2 separate regions of the Homo sapiens genome follow, and region 1 is linked to region 2. The links come from fine-mapping of genetic effects on gene expression. A gene starts in region 2. The other region holds a variant in brackets. All regions are shown on one strand. Distances are from middle to middle. Region 1 overlaps MAP2K6 (mitogen-activated protein kinase kinase 6). Region 2 holds the start of MAP2K6 (mitogen-activated protein kinase kinase 6).

The links. PIP is the estimated chance that this variant, and not a neighbour inherited with it, causes the effect.
Region 1: its variant is fine-mapped to the expression of MAP2K6 in whole blood (TOPMed, PIP above 0.99).

Annotation. Positions count from the first base shown.
Region 1 is chr17:69,493,728-69,508,995 of GRCh38, forward strand. It overlaps MAP2K6 (mitogen-activated protein kinase kinase 6), which reads left to right. Exons shown (of 12, transcript NM_002758.4): 2 at 12,053-12,119. Among named protein-coding and RNA genes, the nearest start is that of MAP2K6-AS1, 16 kb to the left of the region's middle. RefSeq lists enhancers at 10,236-10,285, 10,356-10,415, 12,610-13,111. The variant G/T (reference allele first, on the strand shown) is at 8,415.
Region 2 is chr17:69,408,949-69,424,216 of GRCh38, forward strand. MAP2K6 (mitogen-activated protein kinase kinase 6) reads left to right here and starts at 5,749. Exons shown (of 12, transcript NM_002758.4): 1 at 5,749-6,052. The coding sequence starts at 6,037.

The DNA of each region.
Region 1 (15,268 bases), 85 kb after region 2:
TCCAGCCTGGGGGACAGAGTGAAACTCCATCTCAAGAAAAAAGAAAAAAAAAAATATATGTATACTCAGCTTCATTAAATATTTTTAAAATGTGATTCAAAACAATGAGACACCCCTTGTACCCTTGTACCCATCAAATTGACAGAGATGAAAATGTTAATTTGCTGAGGGATTATTTATATTTATTCATTTTTCCTTTTTTCATTAAGAGTTTAAGTTAGCTTGCTAGGTTGCATAAAATTAAGCAATTTAGCATAAATTAAAAGTAAGTGAGGCCACCTGCAAAGTAGTCTTGCCAAACAATCTGATCAAGTTGAATCTGATCAATTTCTAACCAACAGAGGGATGTGTGAGTCAATAACAAGGGATAAGAGCAGCAGAATCCAGTGGAAAAAACTACAGGACACATGGCCTGCATTTCTTCAACAAAATAATTGCATGAAGTTGCAGGAGGAGAGGAAAGGGAGAGGCAAAAAGAAATGGAGGGAGGTCAGGTGCAGTGGCTCACGCCTGTAATCCCAGCATGTTGGGAGGCCAAGGCGGGCAGATCACCTGAGGCCGAGAGTTTGTGACCAGCCTGGCCAACACGGTAAAACCTCATCTCTACTAAAAATACAAAAATTAGCTGGGCATGGTGGCACATGCCTGTAATCTCAGCTACTTGGGAGGCTGGGGCATGAAAATCGCTTGTACCCAGGAGGCAGAGGTTGCTGTGAGCCAAGGTCGTGCCACTGCACTCCAGCCTGGGTGACAAAGTGAGACTCTGTCTTTAAAAAAAAAAAGAAAGGAAAAAACAAAATGAATGGAGAGCCCCTGGATTAAAAGGGAAATAAGACCCTGTACTGATAGCATTCTAGGGGAGGAGTTGCAGATGAAGAACGTTCCTTTGTTTCTTTATTACCCCCTTAGTCTTCAAGCAGCTGGTTGAATTAAAGTTACTATCTTGGAGTTTCCTTTGGTTAAAAGGGAGGTGATCAGAGTGCTATTAAAATTGTGGGCCGGGCGTGGTGGCTCATGCCTGTAATCCCAGCACTTTGGGAGGCTGGGGCGGGTGGATCACCTGAGGTCAGGAATTCGAGACCAGCCTGGCCAACATGGCGAAACCCTGTTTCTACTAAAAATACAAAATTAGCCGGGCATGGTGGCGCACTTCTGTAATCCCAGCTACTCGGGAGGCTGAGATAGGAGCATCGCTTGAACCTGGGAGGTGGAGGTTGCCGTGAGCCGAGATCGCGACATTGCACTCCAGCCTGGGCAACAAGAGCGAAACTCTGTCTAGAAAAAAAACCAAAAACCAAAAAACAAAACAAAACAAAAACCCAAAATTGTGGTCTTGGACCAGAGGAAAAAAAGAATCCATTACTTCCACATAAAAAAAAAAAAAAAAACAACAAATTCACCCCTCTTATTCGCTATGCCACTCTTTTAACTATTAAAACAGAATTTTCTGTGATTCTGTTACTATTTAAGAACATCTTTATATATTGGTAAATTTCGTTTTATTTTTTCTTTTATTTATTTTTTTTTTGAGCTGGAGTCTCGCTCTTGTCGCCCAAGCTGGAGTGCAGTGGCGAGACTTCGGCTCACTGCCTCCACCTTCCAGGTTCAAGTGATTCCCCTGCCTCAGCCTCCCAAGTAGCTGGGACTACAGGCGCCCACCAACACGCCCAGCTAATTGTTGTATTTTTAATAGAGACAGGGTTTCACCATGTTGGCCAGGGTGGTCTCAAACTCCAGACCTCAGGTGATCCACTCGCCTCAGCCTCCCAAAGTGCTGGAATTACAGGCTTGAGCTACTGCGCCTGGCTATTTTGGTAAATTTCAAACATATTCAAAAGTGGACTGTATTATAACTGCCAGGTATCTAGCACTCAGCTTTGACAATGACCAGCTCATGGCCAATCCTATTTTATCTGTATCTCTATCCCCCACTCTGCCTTTTTTTTTGAAGCAAATTCTAGAATAATATCATTTCACTCGTAAACATTTCAGTATTATCTCTAAAAAAAAAATACTTATTTTTTAAAACCTAACCAAAACCCAGTGTGTATTTTGAAAAGCTCGAGCACGCCACTAAATTTCTTTGCAACCCATTGCCATTTTTTATTTTAAAGTGATGTTTTTAACACCCTTATGACTACATTTCCTTGCGATCAATGCTAATGAGTGAAGCAGCCCATAAATGAGGAAGGAGATGAACCGAGACAGTAGGAGTTCCCTACTGCCTGCCTCCTGCCTTTTCCCTGGGCCTAGAACATAACTCAGGGCATTGGCTGTGATTTGCTTTTAGGTTCTTTTAAGAACATCTTAGTCAACACCAAATTGTTAACATGACATAAAAGGTCTACTAGGACTTTTTTTTTTTTAGCTTTAATCACATGAAGCTGTAATAAAACCCATTTGAGCACTTTTATTCTCTTAAAATGGGGCCATTTCCCAATTAGCGGATGGACAGGCTGGCTCATTCTTCTTTGACAGGAACGTAATTCTTTGTGTCCTTCACCGATTCTTCGAAATGTTCTTAGCTTGGCTGGCTGCCTTCCCTTCTTTTTTTTTTTTTTTGAGAGGGAGTCTTGCTCTGTCTCCCAGGCTGGAGTGCAGTGGTGCGATCTCGGCTCACTGCAACCTCTGCCTCCCGGGTTCCAGCGATTCTCCCGCCTCAGCCTCCAGAGTAGCTGGGATTACAAGCGTGTGCCCCACACCCGGCTAATTTTTTGTACTTTTAGTAGAGATGGGGTTCCAGCGATTCTCCCGCCTCAGCCTCCGGAGTAGCTGGGATTACAGGCGTGTGCCCCACGCCCGGCTAATTTTTTGTATTTTTAGTAGAGATGGGGTTTCACCACGTTGGCCAGGCTGGTCTCGAACTCCTGACCTAAAGTGATCCGCCCACCTTGGCCTCCCAAAGTGCTGGGATTACAGGCATAAGGCACCGCACCTGGCCACCTTCTTTCATTCTTCTTGTTTCCCTGTCTGTCTCAGGCAACTTTCTACCTCTCTGTTTGTCATTCCCAGATCTACTCATTTCCTCCTGTCCCTCTCTTAAGCTCCATTTGCCTGCTTGAATTCTGCCATGCGTCCCGTCCCTGCAGCATCTTATACTTAATACATCTGACTTGGAACTCATGATCTGCCCTTTCCCCACTGGCCACCCCCACTGACCTGACTTTCCTCTTTCACTTAACTTCATTTGGGGGTGGAAAAGCCAGATGACGAGTATCATTTTTATTACCACTACTATTACTAGTAGCAATACTTCTACTATTACTATTACTACTTCCAGTACTACTACTATGCTTCTGTTCCTTTGTTCCTCTTATGCAGTAAGTGACCAGAGCCTATAGATTTTGCCTCTGCAAAATTCAAGCAGCTTATTTGTGAGCCAGATTGCTGTGGTCTCTACCTCTTATTTTTGGGTCTAGTGCTTAAACTCTGTACATAGGTAAGAAGACATGGGCCCTGACTTCAAAGGGCTTGCATTTTTAGTGGAAGACATGGATGAACAGATGGGTTCACTTAATCAGCATAGGAAGGTTCAGGGTACTGTGGCAACACAGAGGAAAGGTATTTATTGCATTGGGGACTTTCATGGAAGACTTCCTGGAGAAAAACATACTTGAGCTGAGTGTCGCAGTTGACTGGGGAAAACAGGTAATAACAACATTCTGAGGAAAATAAGAGCAAAGACCTGGAGGCATAAAACATCAAGGCATGAGAGTATGTGGGTTTATGCATGAGTGTGTGTGTAGCACAGTTTCAAAACATCCTGATATTATTAGATCAGTTCATCTTGTTACATCTTTTTTTTTTTCTGAAGCATGGATGTGGCATGATGTTCCTCTACTGAAAAACATACATGACTTCTCTTTTTACATCTGAAATTTAAAATATATTTGTTACAGTATTTTGATCTCTGACTCCAACTTCCTCCTCCAGGTTTCTCTCTCCACCACTTTTCAGTTTGTCCAGAGTAGAAAACTCAGAATTCTTTGAATATACCACAGTGCTTCTCCTTACAAAGATATTTCATCCTCATTTTACTTTGAATCCCCTTATTGTCTCTCCAAGTCTTGATTGTCAAAATCCCACCCATGGTCTTTTTAAACTTTGATTTTGGAAATATTTAAATATATAAAGAAGACATACAGTATAACAAACCCTCAGGTACCCTTAAATCCTACCAAAATCAAAGGGCCACTTCAAATACCACTTCGTATGTGAGACCATTTCTCAGTGTTGCTTGTCTTGCTTCTTCTCTCCTGCTTTCAGGGTGCAATGCTTGTATTGCACATCACACATACCCGCTGTTATTATGGAGTTGGGTTTTCATATCTCCTGATGCTTCGATGGCAGAATTGCATCTTAATAAGTTTTGACCCTTGCAATGTGTACCCTGGGGAATGATTGACAATTTCAGCTCAAAGATAGAGATAACACAGTGAGGAGCTAGCTTGGAATTTAATTCTTACTAATCAGAAAGAACTGGTGGGTTGTGGGGGATGTGACAAGAGCCTTGGAGGAAAGTGACGTTGGCAACATAAAGTGAGAAATGGTAAAACAAGACAAACAAACAAACAAACAAACACAAAACAACTTTACATAGACATGTGGTAGACAAGGGCTACTTAACTGTGGCTGATTTCTCAGACACTTGTGAAACTTAAAAAAATATATGGATCCTGAAGCCTCACTCTATCAACTTAGCTGGTAACTACTGTCCCCAGTAGCTGAGAGACCTGGACAAAAGGGCATCAGCAGGGGACCCACCTGCATGGGTCCTTTTGGGGCAGTTTCACCCATAGGGATAGGATTGCAAGTGTGGCTTCAGTGACACAACTACAATGTGAGATTTTAAGACTTTTTAGCACTTAGAGACTCTGTATGGCACCCAGCACGCCTGGAAGCCACACACACACACCTGGAAGCCACACACACACACACACACACACACACACACACACGTGCACGCAGAGAGAGAGAGAAGGGACCACTGAGCCAATGTCTTTATTGGGTACAGGGCGTTATCCAGTTTCCTGCAGGGAGCTTTAATTGCTGGGTTTAAAGCAAGCAGGCACTAGTTCTAGGAGGTCACAGCGTGACTGAGAGGTGGTCACCTTACGTTTGTGGGCAAATGTCTGCATGGTCTGTTTAAAGGGAGTGGCAGGAAAGTAGGGAGGCCAGCCTGCTAGGCAGGAGAGATGTCTCTAAGTTTCATGTCTGGCCACTGGTTTGGAGCCAATCTGGTGGAGTGTGGTATTAGACACCGTGTTAAGAGTGACTGAGCCCTGCTTCTGATGTGAGATAGTTTAACTTAGGTTTAAAAATGGATACTGAGGCAATGTAAAATTATAAGCACTCACTACACTCAGTCCCAGAAATCCTGAGTCTATAGACCTGGAGAAGTTCCCATAGTCAGTGGGCACAAAGAGAGGTAGATTCAAGATTGATGAGATGTTTGAAAAATGTAATTCTAGTGTAAATAACACGAAAGAGGGAGAATGGAGCACGGAATTTGAAGAAATAAGATGCCATCCAGGGAACATTCTGCTTAACTCATATTTTAAAAATGTAAGCGTAAACATGGAAGGGACAAAAGGAAGTATTTATTGAGCACCTATATTATGCTACACCCTGCTAGGCTTCTTCACACACACTGTGTCAATCGAGTCTCTTAATGACCTGCGGAGATTGTACATCATCTCCAGTTTGCAGGTGTGGAAACTCAGTTTAAGATAAGAAACTTTCTCAACATTACGTCACTAAGTGGGACAGCTGGGATTTGAAATGATTCTTATTGATGCAGAGGTTTGTGCAATTTCCATTCCATTCTTGGTTGTTCATTTTGTTTGTTTGTTTTTTGAAGAGCTCTGTACAAATGTTCAAAACAGTTGAGAAAAGAATAACAAACATTCAGTCAACAAATATTTATGATGTGCAGGTGCTGGGCAAAATCATTGGCCATCATGGAACTTATATTCTAGTGGAGAAAGGTAGATAAACAAGTAATAAATAAATGCAGAAGTAAATAAATAAATACAAAAATAAAATAATTCTAGATTGTGAGAAAAGGTTTGCGGGAAATGAGTGGAAGATGGTCGTGGAGATCTATTGTAGAGAGAGTGGACATTTTTCAACTAAAATATCAAAGTTTCAGGGAAGCTGCTTTGAGCTCATATTGTGTTGCAGGCTGAGTGTAAGGTGCCAGAATGTGAAAGCAGGAATGTGTGGATAGTAATCCTTAGATTGTGTTCAGGAAGCTCTGGGAAGGTTCTATGAGGGAGGTTTTGAATTTGGAAGGTTGAGTTCTTGTCTGCAAGACAGCTAGAGCCCTCCAGGTAGAAGGAACAGTATGAGCAAAGGTAAGGTCTTAGGAGATTCATTCTGACTCTGAAATCAAACTGACTGCAGGTTTTAAAATGAGCTTTTCAGCTGGGCACAGTGGCTCACACCTGTAATCCCAGTAACAGCACTTTGGGAGGCTAAGGCGGGCGGATAACCTGAGGTCAGAAGTTTGAGATTAGCCTGGTCAACATGGCGAAACCCCATCTCTACTAAAAATACAAAAATTAGGCGGGTGGGGTGGCACGTGCCTGTATTCCCAGTCGCAGCTACTCGGGAGGCTGAGGGCCATGAGAATTGCTTGAACGTGGGAAGCAGAGGTTTCGGTGAGCCTAGATAGGACCACTGCACTCCAGCCTGGGTGACAAAGTGAGACTCTGTCTCAAAAAAAAAAAAAAAAAAAAAAAAAAAGGCCGGCCATGGTGGCTCACGCCTATAATCCCAGCACTTTGGGAGGCTGAGGCAGGTGGATCACGAGGTCAGGAGTTCAAGACCAGCCTGACCAACATGGTGAAACCCCATCTGTACTAAAAAATACAACAATTAGTTGGGCGTGATGGCGGGCACCTGTAATCCCAGCTACTCAGGAGGCTGAGGCAGGAGAATCACACAAAGCCGGGAGGCGGAGGTTGCAGTGAGCTGACATTGTGCCACTGTACTCCAGGCTGGGTGACAGAGCAAGATTCCATCTCAAAAAAAAAAGAAAAAAAAAAAGAGGTTTTCAGCTTTTCTTCTCTAAACTTTCTGTAATTCCAGAGAGATTTGTCTTCAGTGTTTGGAATCTCAGTGGTATATAAGAGCCAGTGGTTTTGGAAGATTGGAGGATGGCAGAGTCCCTGTTCACTTTTACATTGCTGTTGCAAAGCCAGCTTTCTTCCTGCATGCCTCTTCCCCTGCCCTGCTTCGTTCGTTGCTTTGCATATGATGATTGCAATTTAATAACACTGAATGATACTTCACTGCTGGTTTTATTGCCAACTACCCTTGGAACGTAAGCCTAGATGCAAGTAGTAAGGAGAGGGCAGCCAAGGCCTCTAGATTGCCAGTTACTTGGCTGGAAATCCCATTCATATTGGGAAACAGATTTTTAAAATAAATTTGGCACTGGAAACACTGCCATCCTTTTGTGAAGCTGTGTCAATAATCATAAACTCTCATAGTCGTGCCCCCAACCCTCGGCCAAGCTAACAAATATTTAGGCATCAGCATATCTTCACGATGCCACCTTCTGTTGACCGCGTGGGCTTCTCATGCTGTTTGGGTTGGCAGTGGAACATAATCTTCTGTTTTATGTAATGAGGAACATCAGAGGAGTGCTTTGTGCTTACCCTCTCAGAGTGTGTGCAAGACCTCTCGTGTACCCCATCATTTTCGGTGCAGTCAAAGCTAGCGAACATTTCTGTGGCCTGGTAAATATTTTCTAACTATTGGCAAGGCTTTTTAAATTTTTTTTTCCAGTGCCATTTTGCTCCAGGCCAGGATTATAATGACCCAGCTTTGCTTTGGTTTCAGATGAATTTTGCAAATATATGTGTGTGGTGGGATTACACTATTTTCAGAGAACACAGTCATGCGGGTAACAGGGTCTGATGCAATATAGTGCTGCATATGCCCAATCAGGCCGACGAGGCTTACCCTTTGCAGACTGTGCCAATAAGCAGTCGAGGCTTGTTGCGATCTGCAGAAATCTACAGAATTCTCTGTTTCCGAGAAGGCTTGTTGCTAGCATATGACATCATAGAAAGCCTTTTTTTTTTTCTGACATTTTTTCTGCTTTGCTTTAGAATATCAAAGGCAAAGACTGTTGAACATAGTTGGCCACTTAGCTTTATTATTCATAGTGCTCCCTCCCATGTTTTTTTTTTTTTTTTTTTAACAGTGTTCAATGTTAGCGTCAGGTGTTGGCTGCCTTCCTGGGGGAACAGATTGCTGTGAAGTAAACACAGCTGGAAACTGACCACATATTGTTTTTCTTTCTTTTAAGAAATCAAAGAGGCATTTATAGAAAAGCTGCAGAACATGGTACTGTCCAGATTTATAGATTTATTCCTCCAAGTCTGGTTAATGATTAATGTCAC[G/T]CCTGGGTGTCCACATAGACCCACTTCCCTTCTCCCTTCCTGAAGCTGCAATTTCCTCGGAACAATGAGCTTGCAGAGGTTTGCTGCAATCCGAACTTGAGGAGGGGGTGGAGTCTGTTCAGTTCTGTTTCTCCTTGCCGAAGTGTGGTCTTTGGAGCTAAGTGAAGAATGACTTCTGTTAGGTTTTCCTCTGCTGGTCTTCCTTGCAGCCTCGAAAACCTCACCAGAGTCGCCTCTGCTGGTCTCTTACTGTGCTGCTCTGTCAGAGATGGGCAAGTAAGCGAACTGCAGAGTGTTGCTGTGTGTGCTTGTGATTTGTATTTTATTTGATGTAAACGTGAAGGCAGAGTATTTTCTAACACTGTAATTCAACTAGGTTTTGTGTCTCCTGGATCTATTTTTTTTTCTTGTTGTTCTGAGGAGCTGATATACTTGGAAATATTAGGTTTAAGATATGCAGATGTCCAACTTATATACATAGTCAAGGGTTTAGAGTCTGGAGACAGGAGGCTGGCAATTTCAACTAGGAGGCAGTAAATTCAGGGTAAGAATGATGTTGATGTGGGGGGCTGTGGGGGTGGCTGGGTGTAACAGTGATCTGGGGAGAGAATCAAAGGCCTTCTCCTCCCACTTGGAAGACTTTACTATTATTTTGGTCTTTTATTCCTTTGGTCTCTGTGCTAAAAACTTTCTCTCTTTTTTACTGTTTCTTTGTATAGATGTTTTGGTGATTTAAGTTATGGTGTAATAATTAATTGCTGTTAAGAATTGCTACTAATTACTTGCTATATTAAAGTTTTCCAAAGGGGTTTTCTCAATAAATAGCTATTTCTCTTTACATCTATCTTGTAAGAACTGAGTTAGAGGTAAAGAAGAGAAAGATGTAGGAATTTAAGAGTAACTTCTGCTTTTGGTTTGCTTAAATGACAACTGGAGACCAGTTTTCATAGGCAAAATATATGTTACTTTAGTTTTTGTTTTCGTTGAGAGAACTGTAGGGTCGCCTTTTGGGATTACCTGAATTATCTGTCACCTGCACTGGAATTTGTATGTAGTTATCTGTATAGTTATCTAAACAAGTTGAATCCGTCATTCATTCCTCACTGAAGAATCTCATCGAAAGTAACATTCCCTGTCTGTTTGGCTGAGGTGCATGGATGGGAATTGTTGGAATTAGGCCATATATCTATTTGGATTCTCATAACTGGGTCCAGCACCTAGCATAGTTCCTGGTACATAGGAAAGCTCTATGCGATGTCAATAACTGACTAATTTAGTAACATCCTTAACAGCTGTTTGAGTTCCAAGAGCAGGAAAGTGAATGGTGAGTTTTGAACCTTATAAAATACATAAGTAAACCCAAATGAGGAGAGAATTGAGAAAGCCTCTTATTCTGAAGGTGGTCCTAAAAGGCTTTCTCTAGGCTGATTACTGCGAAGCATATTTTTTCCTGGCTATATACAACTTGGCAGAATTGATCTGATTTTGGATTCTGAAGGAATTGAAAAATTTCATTATACATTATAGTGGGCTATAATGATGTGGCCAGTTCTCTTCATTAATTTTTTAAATGACTTTAAAAAAAATGAGACAGTACTGATTGTTTCCCTAAATGAATCTAATTAACAGCTACTTAAGGTATCTTAATGTTTTTTCATATATGTTATCTGCTTTGATTCTCATATCAGTCCAGTGAGGTGAGTATGGTTGTTACTTCCTCATTTTACAATTGAGAAAACTGAGAGTCAGATGAAAAGTGATTCTAGAAGTTGCGTGATGCGTGGAAGAACCAGATGTCAGCTGGGTATTTTAAAACTCAAAATCCCGGGTACGTCTCACCTGCCCCCTCTCCAGTCATCTCTAAACGTCTTCTATTGCAGGATAGTAGAAAGAACTCCCACCTGGGTGTCAGGAGACCTGGATTCTGATTCTGACTGGGTCATTGCTGACCTCTGTGATGTGGAGCAAGTCACTGAAGTCTTTGGATGTTATTTTTCTGCAAGGAGGTTATTTTAATTGGTTTAAGTTTCTTTGCAGCTTCAGGATCTATCCAGGGCCATATCCAGGGCTTGTGTTATCTCTGAGTGCTCATCTGCAATGTAGAGAAGAGGTGGGAAAGGAGGTAGGATTCTTTTTTTTTCTTTTTTTTTTTGAGACAGAGTCTTGCACTGTCGCCCAGGCTGGAGTGCAGTGGTGTGATCTCAGCTCACTGCAAGCTCCGCCTCCCAGGTTCACGCCATTCTCCTGCCTCAGCCTCCCCTGTAGCTGGGACTACAGGTGCCTGCCACCATGCCCGGCTAATTTATTGTATTTTTAGTAGAGACAGGATTTCACCGTGTCGGCCAGGATGGTCTCCATCTCCTGACCTCGTGATTCGCCCGTCTCGGCCTCCCAAAGTGCTGGGACTACAGGCATGAGCCACCGCGCCTGGGCAGAAGGTAGCATTCTTTCCAGCCATTCTATGCAGCTCTCCCTTGGTTTCCCCTGCCAAGTGCAAAGAGACACAGGATCTCCATGCATGAGGAAAACCCCAGGCCCTTGTTTGCTCTGTTCTGCTTCCTGAGCTGGCATTTCTCAGTCTGTTCTTTTTTACTCATCAACAAAAGTATTCGAGCCAAATTCTCTTGTAATTTCAGCCCAGGTGTGATCAACATCAAGTTACCTTTCCATTTGGCCCAAGAAGAAGTTATAACTTCCTTGCATAAGCTCATCTGTTATCTTAATCCTTTCTGGAACAGGGAAAATGTAAATAAGTATTACTCTATCCCTCTCTTAAGTTTTTCAAATTACAGCAGGTGGTTGGGAAAAGGGGAGGGCAGAACAGTGGAAAAGCATTTTTTATTCTACTTCCATTGCTAACTTTGTAGTAGTTAACAGATCGATTTAGAAAATAGTGGGTTACTAAGATAAGGGTGACCACCCTTTACTAACACTAAAAAGAAAAAAAAAAAGCTATAACCAAGTGTCTGCCATCACCATTATAGTGTAAAAGAAAAAAAAAACAAAAACAAAAAACAAGGCCAGGCATGGTGGCTCATGCCTGTAATCCCAGCACTTTGGGAGACCAAGGTCAGCGGATCACCTGAGGTCAGGAGTTCGAGACCAGCCTGGCCAACAGGGAGAAACCCCCATCTCTACTAAAAATATAAAAATTAGCCGGGCATGGTGGTGCATGCCTGTAATCCCAGCTCCTCAGGAGGCTGAGGTAGGAGAATCGCTTGAATCCAGGAGGCAGAAGTTGCAGTGGGCTGAGATTGTGCCACTGTACTCCAGCCTGGGTGACAGAGTGAGACTCTGTCTCAAAAAAAAAAAAAAAAAAAAAAGTTGCAATGACAAATTCTCAGTGGGGAGAAAGGGCAGATCTTCCTAGGAAAAGAGAGTTGGCATTCTCATCCTGATGTTTGCCCCCTGGACTAATGAAAAACCTCATTCATGACCACAGTCTGTATTTGAGAAGCTCTGTCCTACCTGGTGCTTGGGTTCTTAACACTCACAGACTTCCTGGGTAGGAAGTGGCGCTTTGAATGGAGACATGAGAGCTGCCTGTGCAGGTCAGCTCTTTCCTTTGCCGCAGTCTCTTTCTCTGCTATCTTGCTATGATTTAGTCCTTAACTTTTTCCTTTTGTCTTTCCCCATAGGCAAGAAGCGAAACCCTGGCCTTAAAATTCCAAAAGAAGCATTTGAACAACCTCAGACCAGTTCCACGTAAGTTGACAAGACCATCATCTGAATCCAAATCCTTGTGCTTTCAGATTCCTCCTGGGGGTTTATTTTTGGACTGCTGAGCAATGCCTTGACTTTAGAAGAGCCCTTTAAGGGGGAAGCCATTTGCTCACTGTTCTGAGACCTGAAATAGTCATCTTATCAGTCAGTTACGTTGAATGGGTAGTTTTGAACTCAGTGTCTTAAGTTATTGGTTGAGTAGGAAGTGAATGTCACATATATTTGGCAGATGGGGCTCTATGTAAGGCCAGAAAGGCCCCTGGATGTGAACTTCCTTGCCTTTTCCCTGTAGATTGGAGCAAACAGGCAAATCCCTGTGAAAGCCACTACTATAAAACTTGGGTTGAGATGGAAAGATGGTATTTGGTGAGGACCCACATCCTGACACTTAAATTCTGTCCCATATAAACAGAAGGAAGAATGAGGTAAAGGAACACTTTTTTTTTATTAGCTGAGGTTTTGGCCCAAATCCCTAAGTCAGCTCAAGTCCTAGTGAAGGACATCGTGTAAATGACATCCTCTCTGTGAGGATGTCTCCTTCTTGTTTTTTTTTTTTTTATTTTTATTTTTTATCTGTCTCTGTGTGGTGGGAACGGTACTTCCTGTCCAGCTGGAGGTACAACCACCTACCAAGGCATCTGCATGAGAGGAATGGAAATTCCAAGGAAACTCACAATAGAGGTGTTAGAGAGACAGGGCAAGGGCAAAGAGAGGGCATCCTAATGGAAAAGTGAGTTGGTAAGGCTTTTGTTCATGTCTACAAAAGTGCCTCCCTTTGTGATGGGTTTTGATCTTAGCTATGATCTGCTATCAGGAAGTGCACCCCTAGTGTTGGAATGTGTTCTTAAATGGGATCATGTCTGCTGTAAGACTTTGTTAAAGCCACTGGTCCTTGCATTGCGTGAAGCAGTATACAGACACTTTCCACTGGAGAATTTTTAAGGACAAAGTAGAGTTGAGGGCTACTCTTCAGGGTTCTGGACTGTAGCTCAAGAGTCTAAACTCAAGATAGAATGTTCCTTTCATTAGAATCTGCAGGAGGAAGATCCGTCTTCCCATACTTGCTGTCAAGATTGTTTTCTTTTTCTCTTTTTTTTTTCTTTTTTTTTCGGTCTCTCTGAGCAATTTCTTTTTCTCGTAGACCTGTGAACTGTGTAATTACTATTGTTTCCTCTCTGACTGGTTTCTCAAGAGCTTACAGTCAAATATGTGGCCTACTTTTACTACCTGTATAGGAATTTATGGGATATACTTTTAAAACTTTTTATTTTGAAATAATTGTAGATTAACAGGAGGTTGCAAAGAAACGTACAGGGAAGTCCCATAGATCCCTTTCCCCAGGCCATGCCAAACTCCCCCGCCATCCCAAGTTAACATCTTACACAACTATAATACATTATCAAGATCAAGAATGTGGCAGTAGTGCAAATCATAGAACTTAATTTTGCCAGCTATGCAAGTATTCCTTTGTGTGTGTGTGTGTGTGTGTGTGCACGTGTAGCTCTATAAAGTTTATCACATTGTGTAAGTCTTGCATAAGTACTATTATAATCAAGATACTTCACTACAGCAACATTACAAGACTCTTTTATGCTCCCCTCTTATAATCAAACCCACCTCTTCTCCCCATCTCCGTCCTTAATCCCCAGCAACCGCTAATCTGTTCTCCTTTGCCATTTTGTTATTTCATGATTGTTATATAAACAAAATCATGCATCTCTTTTTGAGATTTTTTTTTGTTCAATGTAATTTTATTGAGGTTCATGTAAATAATTGCATGTATTGATAGTTTGTTCCATTTTATTGCTAAGTACCCATCCATGGTATGGTTATACCACAGTTGGTTCAACACCTTAGCCTTTGAAGGAGATATGGGTAGTTTTCCATTTTTGGCTATTATGAATAAAGCTGTTATGAGCATTTATGCATAAGTTCCTGCATGAGAATAGGTCTTCATTTCTCTGGGGTGTAAGCCCAATAGTGCAATTGCTGGGTTATATGGTAAGCCCATCTTTAGTTTTGAAAGAACTGCTGAACTATTGGCCAGAGTAATTGTACCATTTTATGTTCTCAGCAATAATGTCCGAATAATCTAGTTTTTCTGGATCTCTGCCAGCAATTGGTATTATCAGTGTTTTTCATTTTAGCTATTCTGATGTGTAGTGATATATATGTAGTTTTTTTTTTTTTTTTTTTTTTTTTTTGAGACGGAGTTTCGCTCTTGTTGCCCAGGCTGCAGTGCAATGGCGTGATCTCGGCTCACTGCAACCTCTGCCCCCTGGTTTCAGGTGATTCTCCTGCCTCAGCTTCCCCAGTAGCTGGGATTATAGGCGCCTGCCACCATGCCCAGCTGATTTTTTTTTTTTCTTTTTTTGGTAGAGACGGGGTTTCACCATATTGGCCAGGCTGGTCTGCTGGTCTCGAACTCCTGATCTTAGATGATCCACCTGCCTTGGCCTCCCAAAGTGCTGGGATTATAGGCGTGAGCCACTGTGCCCAGCCTATATGTAGTTTTAATTTACAATTTCTCTAGTGGCTAATAATGTAGAATATGTTTTTAGGTGTTTATTTTCCATCTATATATTTTTGGTGAAATGTCTGTGCATATCTTTTGCCCATTGTCTAATTAGATACTTTTTATTGTTTACTTTTGAGAGTTATTTGTATATTCTGGACACGAGGACTTTGTCCGATATATATGTGATATGAAAATATTTTTCCCAGTTTGTAATTTGTCTTTTTATGCTTTTAGCAGGGTCTTTCACAGAGCAAAAGTTTGTTCAACTTATCAATTATTACTTTTACAGATCATGCTTTTGATAATAAGTCTAAGAACCCTTTGCCTAGTCCTAGATCTGTCTAGAAGTTTTGTAGTTTTGCATTTTGCATTTAAGCCCATGGTCCATTTTGAGTTAATTTTTGTTCAAGGTATGAGTTTAGGTTGAGCTTTATTTTTTTGGCCAGTGGGTTACCAATTATTCTAGCACCATTTGTTGAAAAGGCTATCCCTCCTCCATTGAATTGCTTCTGCTCCTTTGTCAATACCAATTGGGCATATTTGTTTGAAGTTATTTCCGCATTGTTTATTCTGTTCCACTGATTTATTTGTCTCTCCCTCTGCCAGTATGACA
Region 2 (15,268 bases):
GCTCACTGCAAGCTCTGCCTCCCGGGTTCATGCCATTCTCCTGCCTCAGCCTCCTGAGTAGCTGGGACTACAGGAGCCCACCACCATGCCTGGCTAATTTTTCTGTATTTTCAGTAGAGACAGAGTTTCACCGTGTTAGTCAGTATGGTCTTGATCTTCTGACCTCATGATCTGCCGGCCTCGGCCTCCCGAAGTGCTGGGATTACAGGCGTGAGCCACCACGCCTGGCCTGTCTCATCTCTTAAGAGACGTTGTTATGAGAGTCATCAGTGGCTTGCCAAAGCAAGGGATCAGGAAGATGTTTAGCCAGTGTATAAAATAGAATGTGTGATCACAATTCCCTTCTCTCTTTAAATCATTGTGGTTTTAATCAAACAGGTGAGTTGGGTTTAGAGACATGGAATATTAAAACTGGAAGAGGCCTTAGTCTGAGTCTCCTTATTTTATAGTGGAACTAAAAGAGGCCCAGAAAGGTAAAATGACTTGCCTTAGGAGACACAGCTAACTTTTTCTACAGCCGGAATTAGAATCCAGATCTCTTAGATTCTAGTGTTTTTCCTATGTCAAAATATCCCATTACTAAATCTCATTAGCTTTAAATTAACTTAAAAGTAGAGCATTTAGGCCAGACCAGGTGGTTCATGCCTGTAATCCCAGCACTTTGGGAGGCTGAGGCGGGCGGATCACCTGAGGTCAGAAGTTCGAGACTAGCCTGGCCAGCATGTGAAACCCCGTCTGTACTAAAAATACAAAATAAGCTGGGCATGGTGGTGCACACCTATAATCCCAACTATTCGGGAGGCTGAGGCAGCAGAATTACTTGAACTTGGGATGCGGAGGTTGCAGTGAGCTGAGACTGCACCACTGCACTCCAGCCTGGGCAAAAAGAGTGAAGCTCCATCTCAAAAAAGAAAAAAGAAGAGCATCTAGTAACTTTCCATGGTATGTAGCAGGGTTTCTCAAACTCACACTATTGACATCTGGACCAGATAATTCTTTGTTGTGGGGCTTTCTGTATGCTATAGTATGATTACCAGTATCCCTGTATACCAATATACCCATTAGATCCCAGTATCACACTCTCTCCCCCTATTGTGATAACCCAAAATATTTCCAGACTTGCCAAACATCTCTTGGGAGGCAAGATTACCCCCAGTTGAGAAACACTGATATTCAGCTATTAAGTCACAAGTACTGTTCCTGGCCTGTGGAATATATGTGACACCTCCCCGACCTCCTCCTCCCTGCATATGCCTCTAGAATAATTCCTTCAGATGCCAGTCTGACCTAACCTAAAGGCCTCCCTCCAAGGATCTCACACCTCGAACCTGACAGCACAAGGCTCTTTCCAGGCGAGGTGCTCAGGTTTCCCTGCCAGTGGTAACTACCTTGTTGGAATCCAGGGTGATGTGTTACAGAGGGTGGCTGAGAAAGTCCAAAGGACGTGCCCGCTGAGTCTTCAAGGACAAGTCAGAAGGAACTAGGAAGAAAATGGAAAAGTCTTGCTAGACAGAGAGCATGTACCAGGCTGAGGGCGGCGGCTCACGCCTGCAATCCCAGCACTTTGCGAGGCTGAGGGGGGTGGATCACTTGAGGTCAGGAGTTAAAGACCAGCCTGGCCAACATGGTGAAACCCTTTCTCTACTAAAAATACAAAAATTAGCTGGATGTGGTGGTGCACACCTGTAATCCCAGCTACTCAGGAGGTTGAGGCAGGAGAATTGCTTGAACCTGGGAGGTGGAGGTTGCAGTGAGCAAAGATCATGCCATTGCAACAGAGCAAGACTGTCTCAAAAAAAAAAAAAAAAAAAAAGAGAGAGAGAGCGAGCATGAGAGCATGTACCTAATGGCAAGGAGTGAGAAAAGCTGCCTTCTCCTGACTCTAATGTCAACATACGATGAGAAATGAAGCTGGAGATAAAGCAGGGCCCAGGTCTTGAGGAACCAATTATACCATGCCATGGAGTTTGGAATAGATCCTGAGTATATTTAGAAACTGAGAGGAGAGTGCATCTGACTTGCATTTTAGAAAGATCTGAAGTACAGAAAATTACAAAGATTGGTGCCTGTAATCCCAGCACTTTTGGAGGCTGAGGCAGAAGGATTGCTTGAAGCCAGGACTTTGAGACCAGCCTGGGCAACGCAGCAACTCTGTCTCTACAATAAAAAATAACAAAAATTAGCTGGGCATGGTAGCTCACGCTTGCAGTCCCAGCTACTTGGGAGACTGAGGTGGGAGGATCTCTTGAGCCCAGGAGTTTGAGGCTACAGTGACCTATATGATCAGGCCACTGCACTCCAGCTTGGAAGACAAAGCAAGACCCTTGTCCCTAAAAACAAACAAACAAACATAGCTGGGCTTGGTGGCATGCACCTATAATCCCTGCTACTCTGGAGGTTGAGGTGGGAGAATCTGGGAGGTGGAGGCTGCAGTGAGCTGAGATCATGACACTGCACTCCAGGCTGGGCGACAGAGTGAGACTCTGTCTCAAAAAATTAAAAAAAAAAATAAAAACAAACAAACAATTAAAAAGATGGGGGAGGCCAGGCGCGGTGGTTCACGTCTGTAATCCCAACACTTTGCAAAGCCAAGGTGGGTGGATCACTTGGGGTCAGGAGTTTGAGACCCCCTGACCAACACGGTGAAACACTGTCTCTATTACAAATGCAAAAATTAGCTGGGTGTTGTGGTGAGCTCCTGTAACATCAGCCATTCGGGAGGCTAAGGCAGGAGAATCGCTTGAACCTGAGGGGTGGAGGTTGCAGGGAGCCGAGATTGCGCCACTGCACTACAGCCTGGGTGACAGAGCGAGGACTCATCTCAAAAAAAAAAAAAAAAAAAAAAAAAAAAAAGATGGGGGATTTAAAACAGAAGCATGGGCCACCTGAAGATGAACACTTGATGTGCATATAAAAGGAGACACCTGCCAGAATTCACTCCTGCCTTCTTACGCCACAATGGGGAGGATTCTCCTCCTAGTACCAATGATACCACGAAGACTGGCAGGAAGAAGAGCACAGGTACCTCCTCTTCCACCACCCACGTATGTGGGAGAGGAAACTTTTGAACACCAAGGCAGGAAGAAGAACTTTTTCTTCTGGGAACCAAGACTTCACAGAGAGGTTGAGTTCCCTGTCATCCCAATTTCCTACTTGAAATTCAGGATACATTTTTCCCAGAAAGAAATATGATACAAAATTTTGCTATTTTTAAACGGATGATTCAGCCAATTTATGGATGAGAGGTGTTTTGTGTATGCATGTGTGCTTGTGTGTGTATATTAGCTGCTGAACATATTGTTGGTGCTATGGGAAAATGAATTGCAGATTGACTTTCAAGCTACAATCCATTTGCCAGCTGTGGACTCCGCACGCCTATGCAGAGAAAGTAAGAGCAGTAATGACAGTGGCAAAATGCACCAGACAAGTTGTGATTAGAACTCTTCCATAAAGAAGGGAGTCTGGGGCTACTTAAGAGCAATGCAGCTGACCACATAAAATGCAAATTGAAGCAAGCTCTAGGTGGCTGTTCAGGCCCTGCCTGGGCTAAGCCAGTTTACAGAAAGCTCCAGCAGCTATCCCAGGGCCTGGCTCCATCAGTGTTTGGGAAAGTGAACTAGATTTTCACACGTGTCTCCTGGTTAAATGAGACTTAGGAAACCATGCTGGTTTGAGGGGGTGCTGAGCTTGTGTGTATACGATAGGAGGGAAGGGACAACATGGATTAGCCTAGAAGGACAATAAAAGAGTTAGAAAGTCCTTGCACCTGTGTTCACAGACCAGCAATGCCTTCCTCTTAGGGGCAGAAGCTAATATGGAGATTAGATTGCCTTCACTAATTGTCAAGAATGTCAGTAAAGGGGACCAACTTAAGTAAATTAATGTTAGTCTCACAACCTATTGCATATTTAAGATTTGATTTGCTGGTTTGCAGCTGAAATAAGACGGCTTCCTTCCCTCTAATGCATCCCTTATGCAGATGGTCCTGGCTTCCAGCATCCTAAATACAATTCCAATAGTTTTCATTAGTAATCATCAAATCTAGCTGAATCTTCTTTCAAAGTGCCTCTTTTTGCCTTTCACTACTGACCTAACCTATCTCTAGCCTCTCCCAGTTCCAACCCACCTTGATTGCTGAGGGCAAATTTACTTTCTTAAAACAATGCTTGGATTAAGTTACGCCCCTTTGCAAGACCCTTTCACCTCCCCGCAAGTACCTGCAGAATAAAGTCCAAACCTCTAGCCCACCTTTTAAGGCCCTGTGGAGTCCTCACCTGTAAATCTCCCCCGCCCTCACCACTCCTGCACACAAGGCAACAAGGTCTCCTTGGCAGCTTCTGAGTAAGGTTGTCCTTATTTCTGCCACAGTGCTTTGTCCACACCTCCTTGAATTCCTCAATTCCTCCCTCTGTCTTAAAAGAACATTTCTGAGTCTGTCTGCTCCATGAAGTATAAGTCCGAGCTCATTTTTGCCCATGCCCTGCTCACTCCTCTCCATTCCTTGCAGTGAATTGTGCTAAGCATCTCTGGCTTCCTTGTGAAAAAGGTGATGCCGTTCTCCATCAGGGTGCTGTGTACCCACTATGTGTGAGCGGTACAGAATGAATGAACATCCCAGGGCCCTAGAAAGGCGCCTGGCACATCCTGGACACTCAACAAGTATCTTTTAATTTTAATGAATAAATTCAAGATATTCGACTGTATTCATTTTCCACCCACTTTCCCCCTAGGCCAGGGACTCTCCTCCCAGGTGAGAAAAAATCATCTAGATACCTTAATTTTGATAAAGTTAGCGTTGATGTATAAAAAGCAGAACTTCCTCTGTAACCCTGTGAGAAATGAGAAGCCTCCAATCTTCTTCCCCACACCTACCCCCTACTGAGTTTCGGGTTCCTTGGAAATAACTGACCTGGATTGTTTCTGACAAAATAAAACTTTGCATCTTCTCCACAGAGCAAAGGTAACCTTACCTCCAGCCAACCCAATCATCCATACATTTTTCTTACTAGAAAAAATGTTTTTAAAAATGGAGGTGTGGCCGGGCGCGGTGGCTCACGCCTGTAATCCCAGCACTTTGGGAGGCCGAGGTGGGCGGATCATAAGGTCAGGAGTTCGAGACCAGCCTGGCTAAATGTTGACACCCCGTCTCTACTAAAAATTAGCCGGGCGTGGTGGCGCATACCTGTAATCCCAGCTACTTGGGAGGCTAAGGCAGGAGAATTGCTTGAACCCGGGAGGCGGAGGTTGCAGTGAGCAGAGATCGCGCCACTGCACTCCAGCCTGGGCGACAGAGCGAGACTCCCTCTCGGGAAAAAAACAACAACAACAACAACAAAAAAACCCCCAAACAAACAAAAAACGGAGGTGTGAGGGTAAAACGTCTACAGGCAAGAACAGCACAACAGGTGCTGAGCTGCAAAATCAACACACTAAACTCCCAAACAGACCTTCTCGACAAGCCAAAAGCTCTTTAGCTAACCTAATATTCTTTAGCTGTTGTTTCAGAGGCTTTTCGAGAACAAAACTGCCGCCCCGTCTTGGCCTTGCCGCTTTTCACCCATCACTCTACTGAGTGTGTGTCTGACTTGTTTATCTGGACGCAATCTTTGTCGCACCCAGTTATCTCGCTCAGCGACCGGGGCGACCACGTTTCCTTAAATCAGAGCCCCGTGGACTCCGCCGGAGAACTACATTACCCAGCGGCCTTCGCGCCCTTCGCAGGAAGGACGTCTGCGCACTAAGATACTCAGTTCCAAGTTTGGAGCTTTTAGCTGCCAGCCCTGGCCCATCATGTAGCTGCAGCACAGCCTTCCCTAACGTTGCAACTGGGGGAAAAATCACTTTCCAGTCTGTTTTGCAAGGTGTGCATTTCCATCTTGATTCCCTGAAAGTCCATCTGCTGCATCGGTCAAGAGAAACTCCACTTGCATGAAGATTGCACGCCTGCAGCTTGCATCTTTGTTGCAAAACTAGCTACAGAAGAGAAGCAAGGCAAAGTCTTTTGTGCTCCCCTCCCCCATCAAAGGAAAGGGGAAAATGTCTCAGTCGAAAGGTAAGAGGCTGTTTGCATTAGTTGCAAAAATGCAAAGGGTTGTGCATGCATTTATGAATGCATGGATGCAATTTTCGCCTGGCGAGTGCATTTTTAAGTTTGAGGTTTTCCACAGCTCAGTTGCATTTCCTGTTTAGTATGTGTCTTTTTTTGCAGACACAGAGAGTTCCTGTAAGGCAGGGCTTGCAGTTCAGCTGTGCATTGACGTTATTTGCATTCTTCTGCTAGGATTACTGAGCTCTTTTTGCCTTTTGCACAGTCAGGAGAGACAGAGCAGGTTGGTAGCGTCTAAATGTGCAAGGCTTTATATAATTGTAAAATTCTTTACTATGCACAGATATTGTAAGTAATTTTGTATGCAACAGGAATAGAAACTTTTAAAAACTCTATAGGTGAAGATGAAAGGTAAAACTTGAGTTAAACTACTAGGAAATTAATGTAATCTTATATTCTTTGGGGGAAATAGACCGTTGCGGTGCCAGTATTTAGCTAAATTTCCATTGATATCGCCTTGAACATTAGGTAACTTTTGATTTTTAAAGGAAGTAAAGGTGAAGGGTGAATAACAGCATATCACAAAAAAGCAGACGAGTCTTGCTCTTCTGAGATTTTGCACTTTACACCAATTGCTTATTGGCTCGCAAAATTTAGAAGCAGCAGTGAAGACCTAATGTTTTATGTCTGCCCATTTGGGGGATGCTTTGCATCTTGGGGGAAAATATTGGGGGTAAAACTGTACTTTTAAGCATTACAGTAGTGTGAAGGGACTGCACTGTTTCATTGACAAGCATAATGAAATATTTTAAGTGTGTAACTGCGTGTATTTAGTCAGCTGTAATAGGTTGGAAGTTCACGTTATGGTTGTTTTCTTTATGTTCTTTTATTTTCTTTTCTTAATTTTTGTTTTTAAACACAGTTGTATTTTGCAGGCTTAATGTCACCCTGGGAAGGGGATTTAAAAAATTCCTGATATGACATCAAAGAGCAGACTAGGTGCTGTCAGGTGCCCCTGGGACCCCAAGTCACTTGTTTCAGAACAATTGTTTCTTTACCATAGAGAAAGCATATGCCATATGAGAAGTATGGGATGATGAAGAGAGGTGTTAGATACTATTGAATTAGGCTACCCGGGGCACTCTTTGAGTAAGACATGGTGAAATTAAAGGGTCTAACAAGCTTTTTGCTACTTTTTTGGGAGGGAGTGTGGGGAGTTGTTGCACCGCTTTTTAATTCTACCTGATGGGAGTCATATATCTCAGCAGCCCAAGAAGGAAGTAGTAATCTCAAGCATTCAAAGTAGCACTCTGCTTTTCTTTGAGTATTAGGGGAGAATGGAAATCTGAAAAGTTAAGAGTGCTGAAGAACCTAGGAATTGACATATCAGGTGGAGATGTTCCTCAAGTGGGGAAAACCTAAAAATCTCCTTATTGAGTAGAGAAATAATAGTTCAGAAGAGGCAGTCCATGCTTTGATGTATTAAAGAGATGGCATTTAGTTACTTTGTATTTGGTAAACATTCGCTCATTCATTCAATTCAGTTTAATATATGTGTAATATATTGTGATATGCATGTATATACATATGTATGTGTGTATATATATGCATGTATATGTATGTATTGTGTGTGTATGTGTGCACATGATTTAGGGACACACAAAAATATTTAAAATGAAGTTTTTCCTTCGGGTTGGTGAAAACAAGAATGTAAGGAAATCATTATAATACAAGATAATAGGACAGGTATTGAAGAGAAATGGTGCTATTGGAGTTTAAAAATGGAAGTGATTTATCTATTTGGGGGATAGTCAGGAAGGTTTATGAAGAGGGTGGTGTTTACTGTGATCTTATCTTTGGACTTTAGGGTCTAAACTAAATCAGGCTCCTTTTTGCATATTTTTGGGCTCACTATGAACGTGGCTCCCTCTTAGTAGAGCCAGTTTTTGAGTTGAGAAGCCAAAGGAGATATTAGCACTGCACTCTTCCCTATGGATGTGTTTACAATGGATCAGGTACTGGTGGTCCTTCAAATCAATTCCCATTTACCCAGATGAGTTTTCTTAATTGGATTCTGCTTGGAAAGTACATCTGGAATGAACATGGGGTTCTTGTCCGAAAGGAAAATTATTGGTAGAAAGAAGTGGGTGATCATTTTAGAAATGGCAAAAGAGCCAGCCGCCTTGGCCTGGACTTTAAATGTGGAATTGGCCTTATTCAGCTACGCTATTCTCAAATGGCCAAAATACTTTTTGCAGTACCAAACTTCTTTTTTAATATTCTAACCCAAGAAATGGGAGGAAAAGTGAAAAGTGGATACAATCTCATAGTATTGAAGAATTTAACAATATGTTCAATTCAAGGACCTTTACGAACTTTCTAGATCACTATAATTCGGTTTAACAGACCTCTAATTTAAGGCACAGCAGAGGCAAAGGAATTACAGACTCTCTGGAAGCTGGAAGGACTGGGTTACTGCTCTACAGCCTTACCAACAGTGAGATTCCGAGAAAGAATTTCTTAAAAAGAAATTTTGTTTTCCACAGTTGTAACTTTAGGTGGTATGCTTTTCAGCTTGTTTATATTAGCTGTCTGGGGTTGAGTTGACATTTTTCAAATATTAAAGCAGTAGAATGCCTTTTGAGGAAATCTGAAATGTAAGTTAACAGGAAGGGCACCCAGAAAGTGCAGGAATTCCTGCACACTACAGGAAGACAAGCTACAGGAAAAATGTGTCATCTACACTACCCGGGAGAGAAAAACTATTGTTATCAGCCATAATGATCTCCGGAGGGAGGGAGAGAAAGAGGGAGGTAGGGAGATCTGGCATCCCCCAGTTCACCTGAAAATACACAAAAAGTTTGACCCTGTTAAAATACACTTTTCTCACTTCTCCTCCTATTCACCTTTAAAAAATATTAGTTTATTTTAGTTTTAGAGAGCAATAAGTAAATCATGTAAGAAATGCCTATGAGGCACAATTCAGAAGCATATAGCAGAGTGGTAGGAAAGGTCTTAACTCTACTGGGGTTCTTTGCTTCTGTAATTCATTCCACCCTTGGGAAATGAAATGTGTAAATTTCTTGTTCTCTATAAATTCCTTTGTTAGGTTGTACCAGACGGACTTGTCATGCTTAGCCTGTAATCTGAGCCAGTATGTTTTATAACCCCGTACATCTCAGGACACAAAATCAGAATAGGTAGCTTGGGTTTCCTGAGCTTGCTTTGTATTAGCATTGCATTCAGTTCTTTAGAGCATGCGGCCTGTTAACTGTAGGGGGCTTCAGGGGTCTCTGGTTGGTAAATTTAATGTTGGAGAAAAGAGTTGAGATTCTCTTGTCTTTGTTTTTCAGATTAGTGTTACTTTAATGACTCCCCAGTATTTTAAAATCTGAAAGATCTACAAGGAATATTTTTAAAACTTAAAAGAAATTTCATAAATAACCCTTGTTCATTATAGAAACATTTCATAGAAAAGGAAAAATAAGAATGACTAGTTACTGCAGTCTACACTTTGGCATTTATTCTCTTGGACTTTTTTTTTCTATCTATGTGTATGAAGCATCCAAAATGTGTGTAAAACTAAGTCTATTTCGTTCCCTCTTGTTTCACTTACCAATATATGGCAAAATATTCCCAAGTTTATATATTTCTACATTCATAGTATCCTCTTCCATTGTATTTATTTAAATAGAATCTTAATGTTTATTAACTTTCACTATTGTGAATATTTCCGTGATGATCATACCAGTTCCTACATTATCATGCATACTATGCCCTTAGATTAAATTCCAGGGAGCAAAACCACAGGCTTTGAATGTCCAGTTCTTCTTCACTCTCCATTCTCTTTTCTTCCTTCTGAAAATAGCTTTTTATTATTGCAAAAAAAAAATGACATATGCTAATCAAAAAATTCAAACCAAAGATAAATTCACAATAAGAATATAAAACTCACTCAAAGTCATACCACCCAGAGCTAATTACTGTTAGTTTTTTGGGTACTATCTCCATATTTGTATGTACATGTTATTTTACACACTATATATTGTATTTTGTAACTTGCTTTTTTATACTCTACCATATATCTTGGATATCTTTCTGTAGTAGTACACATAAGGTTACCTATTTTTTAACAACCGTGAATTTTAATTTGTAAGAATGTAGCCATTTACTTAATGTCATATTGAGTTTTCAAACAGTTTCCATTTTTTTGCACAGCTATACACAGTACTGTAAGGAATACCTGGAACATACATCTTTATACATTTGCCCAATTATTTCTTTAGGATGATTCCTAGAGGTGGAAGTCCTGGGTCAAAGGGCATGTATAGATATATTGCTAAATTGCCCTTCATAGAGGTAACACTAATTCTCATTTCTACCAATAATATTTAGACGTGCCCATTCTGTCCTTTCAAGCATAATGGTACATATTGCCAAGTAAATTGCTCTTCAGGAAGATGGTACCTTTCTTCATCCTGGGTATAACAATTTGAAAAAATCTTTGGCAGTTTGATGAAAGCTATTAATATTCTACTCTAATATTATTAGTGATAAGGCAGTTGCATTTTTCAGTTTTTTTGACATTTGTGTTTCATGTGCCCAAATTTCTTTTTTTCTCATGAAATATATCCTTAAAATTTTAATTTGGGTGGCCAGGCATGGTGGCTCATGCCTGTAACCCCACTTTGGGAGGCCGAGGCAAGTGGATCACCTGAGGTCAGGAGTTCAAGACCAGCCTGGCCAACATAGTGAAACCCTGCCTCCACTAAAAATACAAAAATTAGTCAGGCGTGGTGGTGCACACCTGTAATCCCAGCTTCTTGGGAGAATCGCTTGAACCTGGGAGGTGGAGGTTGCAATGAGCAGAGATTGTGCCACTGCACTGTAGCCTGGGTGACAGAGCCAGACTTCATCTCAAAAAAAAAAAAAAATTAATTAATTTGGGGATCAAATTATTTTCAAAGTTAGCCAGAAAATAGCAATATTGTAGAGGTTAGGTAATCCTGGATTGATAGTTGGGTTCTGTGTATCTAAACAATTTAATTCCTTGATGAGTTCTAATTTTAATTTTAACCTAATGTCTTAAGCTGCTATCACATATTTTATAAACTCATTTTATTTATATAGTCTATAGCTATCCAGACCTATATGAAAATAATAAGAAAAATGTAGTGATCTGATTAAATTCCAGTCTGAGAAATAGCTTACTTTTGGGCATTCCTGCATTTTCAGTTATCTTTTCAGGCAAAATTAGTTTTTCTTTAGGTTTATAAATAATTCTTACATAGCACCTGGTTGTGTTATATGCATTGTTGCAGAGAAATTTAATCTAATTTTTTTTAGCTTCCTGTGCAATGCCTAATCACAAAAGGTGGTTGACTTAAATTTCCTACATTTGTTAAAATAATTAAGTCTAGAATCTTTAAGATTCTTGTTAAGAATCAATTTTAATGACCTCACAAGTCATATAAGTCAATCAGATTTAACATATCCTTAACATAGCCTTAATAAATGCGCCTATTTATGCATCCTGATATTAAGTGATAGAATTTAGAGCTATGAAAGTTTTATAGTCCAATCACTTCATTTTACACATAAGCTAACTGAGGCCTTGGAAGTGAGTGACTTTCCTGAAGACAGTAGAGTGGAGTCACAGGGAGAAGTCAGATCTACAGATTCTCTGTCCGTAAGTTCTTTTCACTAAACCACACGTGAACACTAATAATCCACATTTATAAAATTTTTTTTTCTTCAGAATCTTTAGTATATTTCACATTTTTAGCTTTGCTTGTTTTTGTTGGGAGCAGTCTGGCAAGGGGGAGCTGATGGTATAATGAGCAGGGGTTATTTTTCTGTGTCCAAGAAATGGTGACATGTGAATCATGGTGGTGGGGTTTCTTACCAGTTCTCTGCCAAAGGATATTTTGCAAATGCTCTCATTTTGATTCCCAGTGCCTACATAGTACAGCTGCAAGTTTTAACCACTGTAATGGTTGTTTGCCTTTTATGGACTGTCTTGTTTGAAAGCCCTTGCTGGGTAACTAAACCTTTTCTTATATATCTTTACATCTCTGACTCTTATAGCATTGTCCTTATAAATAATAGGTGCTCAAAAAATGTCTGACAATGAAAGTATTTTTCATCAGTAGGGATAAGCTCTCATTTGCTCCTAAGTTTTATGAAAGATTTCGGGTAATTAAATTACAATGCAATTTTCTTCTTGTGCTTCTTCTTTGTTTGCACTGATATTCCCATTATGTATTTGCTTAATTATTTGGAAGTTGCAAGAACAGCATGAAAAGCAACTTATAATGGCTGGCGAAGTGTCATTTCTCCTACCTAAGCCTTCTGAACAGATTTAAAGGTTGCACAATTCTCTGCTAACTTTCTTTTTAAAAAATATGAGAAGATGAATTGTCCGAAGAATCCCATCCAATAGAATTGAAGTGATTTCTGCATCCTGTGCTGGTTTTAGGAGCTGGTTTTTAAGTCTATGAGGCTTCTGAAGGATTGTCAGAGACAATCCTTTTTTTGTTGTTGTTTTTTGTTTTTTTTTTTTGAGACAGAGTCTCGCTCTGTCACCCAGGCTGGAGTGCAGTGGTGCGATCTCAGCTTACTGCAACCTCCGCCTCCTGGGTTCACGCCATTCTCCTGCCTCAGCCTCCGGAGTAGCTGGGATTACAGGTGCCTGCCGCCACCATGCCCGGCTAATTTTTTTTGTATTTTTAGTAGAGATGGGATTTCACCGTGTTAGCCAGGATGGTCTCGATCTCCTGACCTCGTGATCCACCCGCCTCGGCCTCCCAAAGTGCTGGGATTACAGGTGTGAGCCACCACGCCCGGCCCAGAGACAGTGTTTTTAACAGCTGGCTGCCCTCTAACAAAACAGGGAACTTCGCAAGGATCACCTCCCAGTGAAATGATTCTTCACTTCCTCCTTGACCACCTCCACTGCCTCTGCCCAGCCCCTTCCTCCCTGGCTTGTACCCCACTCTGTCTCCTTTGATGGTCTTCCTGAGTTGGCCCATGCGGTTCAGTATGTAGTCCATAATCTCCCTCTTTCTGAGTTGAGGAGGATATTCAGGTTATAATCCCCATACAATGAAGTCTATCAGAAATCATCGTAATTTTTTTTTTTTTTTTTTTTTTTTTGAGATGGGGTCTTGCTCTGTCACCCAGACTGGAGTGCAGTGGTGCAACCTCAGCTCACTGAAACCTCTGATTCCCAGTTTCAAGCAATTCTCCTGCCTCAGCCTCCCGAGTAGCTGGGATTACAGGTGCCTGCCACCATACCAGGCTAATTTTTGTATTTTTAGTAGAGACAGGGATTCATCATGTTGGCCAGGCTGGTCTCAAACTCCTGACCTCAGGTGATCCACCCACCTCGGCCTCCCGAAGCACTGGGATTACAGGTATGAGCCACCACGCCTGGCCAAATCATCGTAATTTAGTCAACTCCAGTCTGAGTTGAAGCATTAAATAAGCATTTGCAGCATCCCTGTCATCTGTTTTACTTTCTGGTCTGTACATCCCTTCTTAAGTCAGATTCTTGAGATTAGTCTTCTTTGGACAGACCATTAGCCCCAGGTGGAGCTGCTGATCACAACCCCTCCCTGTACCACTCCCAAGGCTGTTGTCATCATCACTTACCCTAAGCCAGTTACTTTTCATATAGTATGCTTTAGGATGTCCCATAAACACTATGGACAAAGTTGGTGTTATTATCCTTAATTTACGAGTGAGGAAATCAATTGTTGTTAACCAATTTGCCCATGGCTGGATAGCGAGTCAGTGGCAGAGGCAGGATGGATGTCTGACTGGTGGGCCTGTGCAGCAAACTGCAGCTCCTGGGCCAAATCTAGCTTCAGCTGTTGTTTTTGTTTGTTTGTTTGTTTGTTTGTTTGAGATGGAGTTGCGCTCTTGTTGCCCAACTGGGAGTGCAATGGCGCGATCTTGGCTCACTGCAATCGCCACCTCCTGGGTTCAAGCGATCCTCCTGCCTCAGCCTCCCGAGTAGCTGGGATTACAGGTGTGCACCACCACGCCCAGCTAATTTTTTGTATTTTTAGTAGAGACGGGGTTTCACCATGTTGGCCAGGATGATCTCGATCTCTTGACCTTGTGATCCGTCCTCCTCGGCCTCCCAAAGTGCTGGGATTACAGGCGTGAGCCATCGTGCCCGGCCAAGCCTCAGCTGTTTTTAAGTATAGCCCGTGAGCGAAGATGGTTTTCCCATTTTTAAATGATTGAAAAAAAATCAAAATCAATGTTTCATGACACATGAAAATGATACGAAATTCAAATTCAGCATCGACAAACAAAGTTTTATTGGAACACAGCTATGGTCATTCATTTATATGTTTTCCATGGCTGCTCTTTGCTCGACAGCTGTCGAGTTGAGTAGTTGCGCCAGAGCCCCTATGTCCCACAAAGCCAAAAATATTTGCTATCTGGTCCCTTGCAGAAAATGTTTGTTGACCCTTTCCTTTATGACTTTATTCCATCGAATACTGGGGTCTCTTCATGACAGAGCTCCCAGAAACATTCCTCTCTGGCTTTAATTGGAAGTTGTTAACCTGGATAACTACTGCTCTGCTGCTCAGCCAGAGACCTCTTGGGCCCAGCCCACAGGAAACGTCTGAGTGGTGTCTCTCCTAGTTATAAGAATTGTAGGTCATTGCTCATTTCCTCTGAACTAAGTTACCCGTCTCCTTTTGCCCGTCCTGGGGTCTTTTCCCCTTAGTTGTGTTCTTCCTGTTTGCTTTATATTTCTTTCCTTTTTTTCTTCCCTTCGATGAGAAGCTGCTTATTAATTCTTCCCTGAGACTCTTCATCCTCCCCTTATTGATCCCACATTTCTTTAGAAAGTATTAGGTTGGTGCAAAAGTAATATTGTTTTTTATCATCACTTTTCATGGCAAAAACCACAATTACTTTTGCACCGACGTAAGAAATCAAAAATAACTCTCCTGCTACCACCATTGCCTGGCTTGTTGGTTATCATCATGACCCAGCTCAGAGGTTCCATCATTTCTTTTGTGTCAACGTGAAAGCCTCCCTGCATGGGACCAGAGAGGTTTCCAGTTATCATCTCCTGCAAAGTTTAGAGCTGTTTTCTTACATTAACCCCCTAACCCCGGGTGGGCAATTTTCTTTTGAGGACGAATATTCTTTGTGCTCACAGAGTCGCTTACATCGTGGATATTGGGTATATTTAGG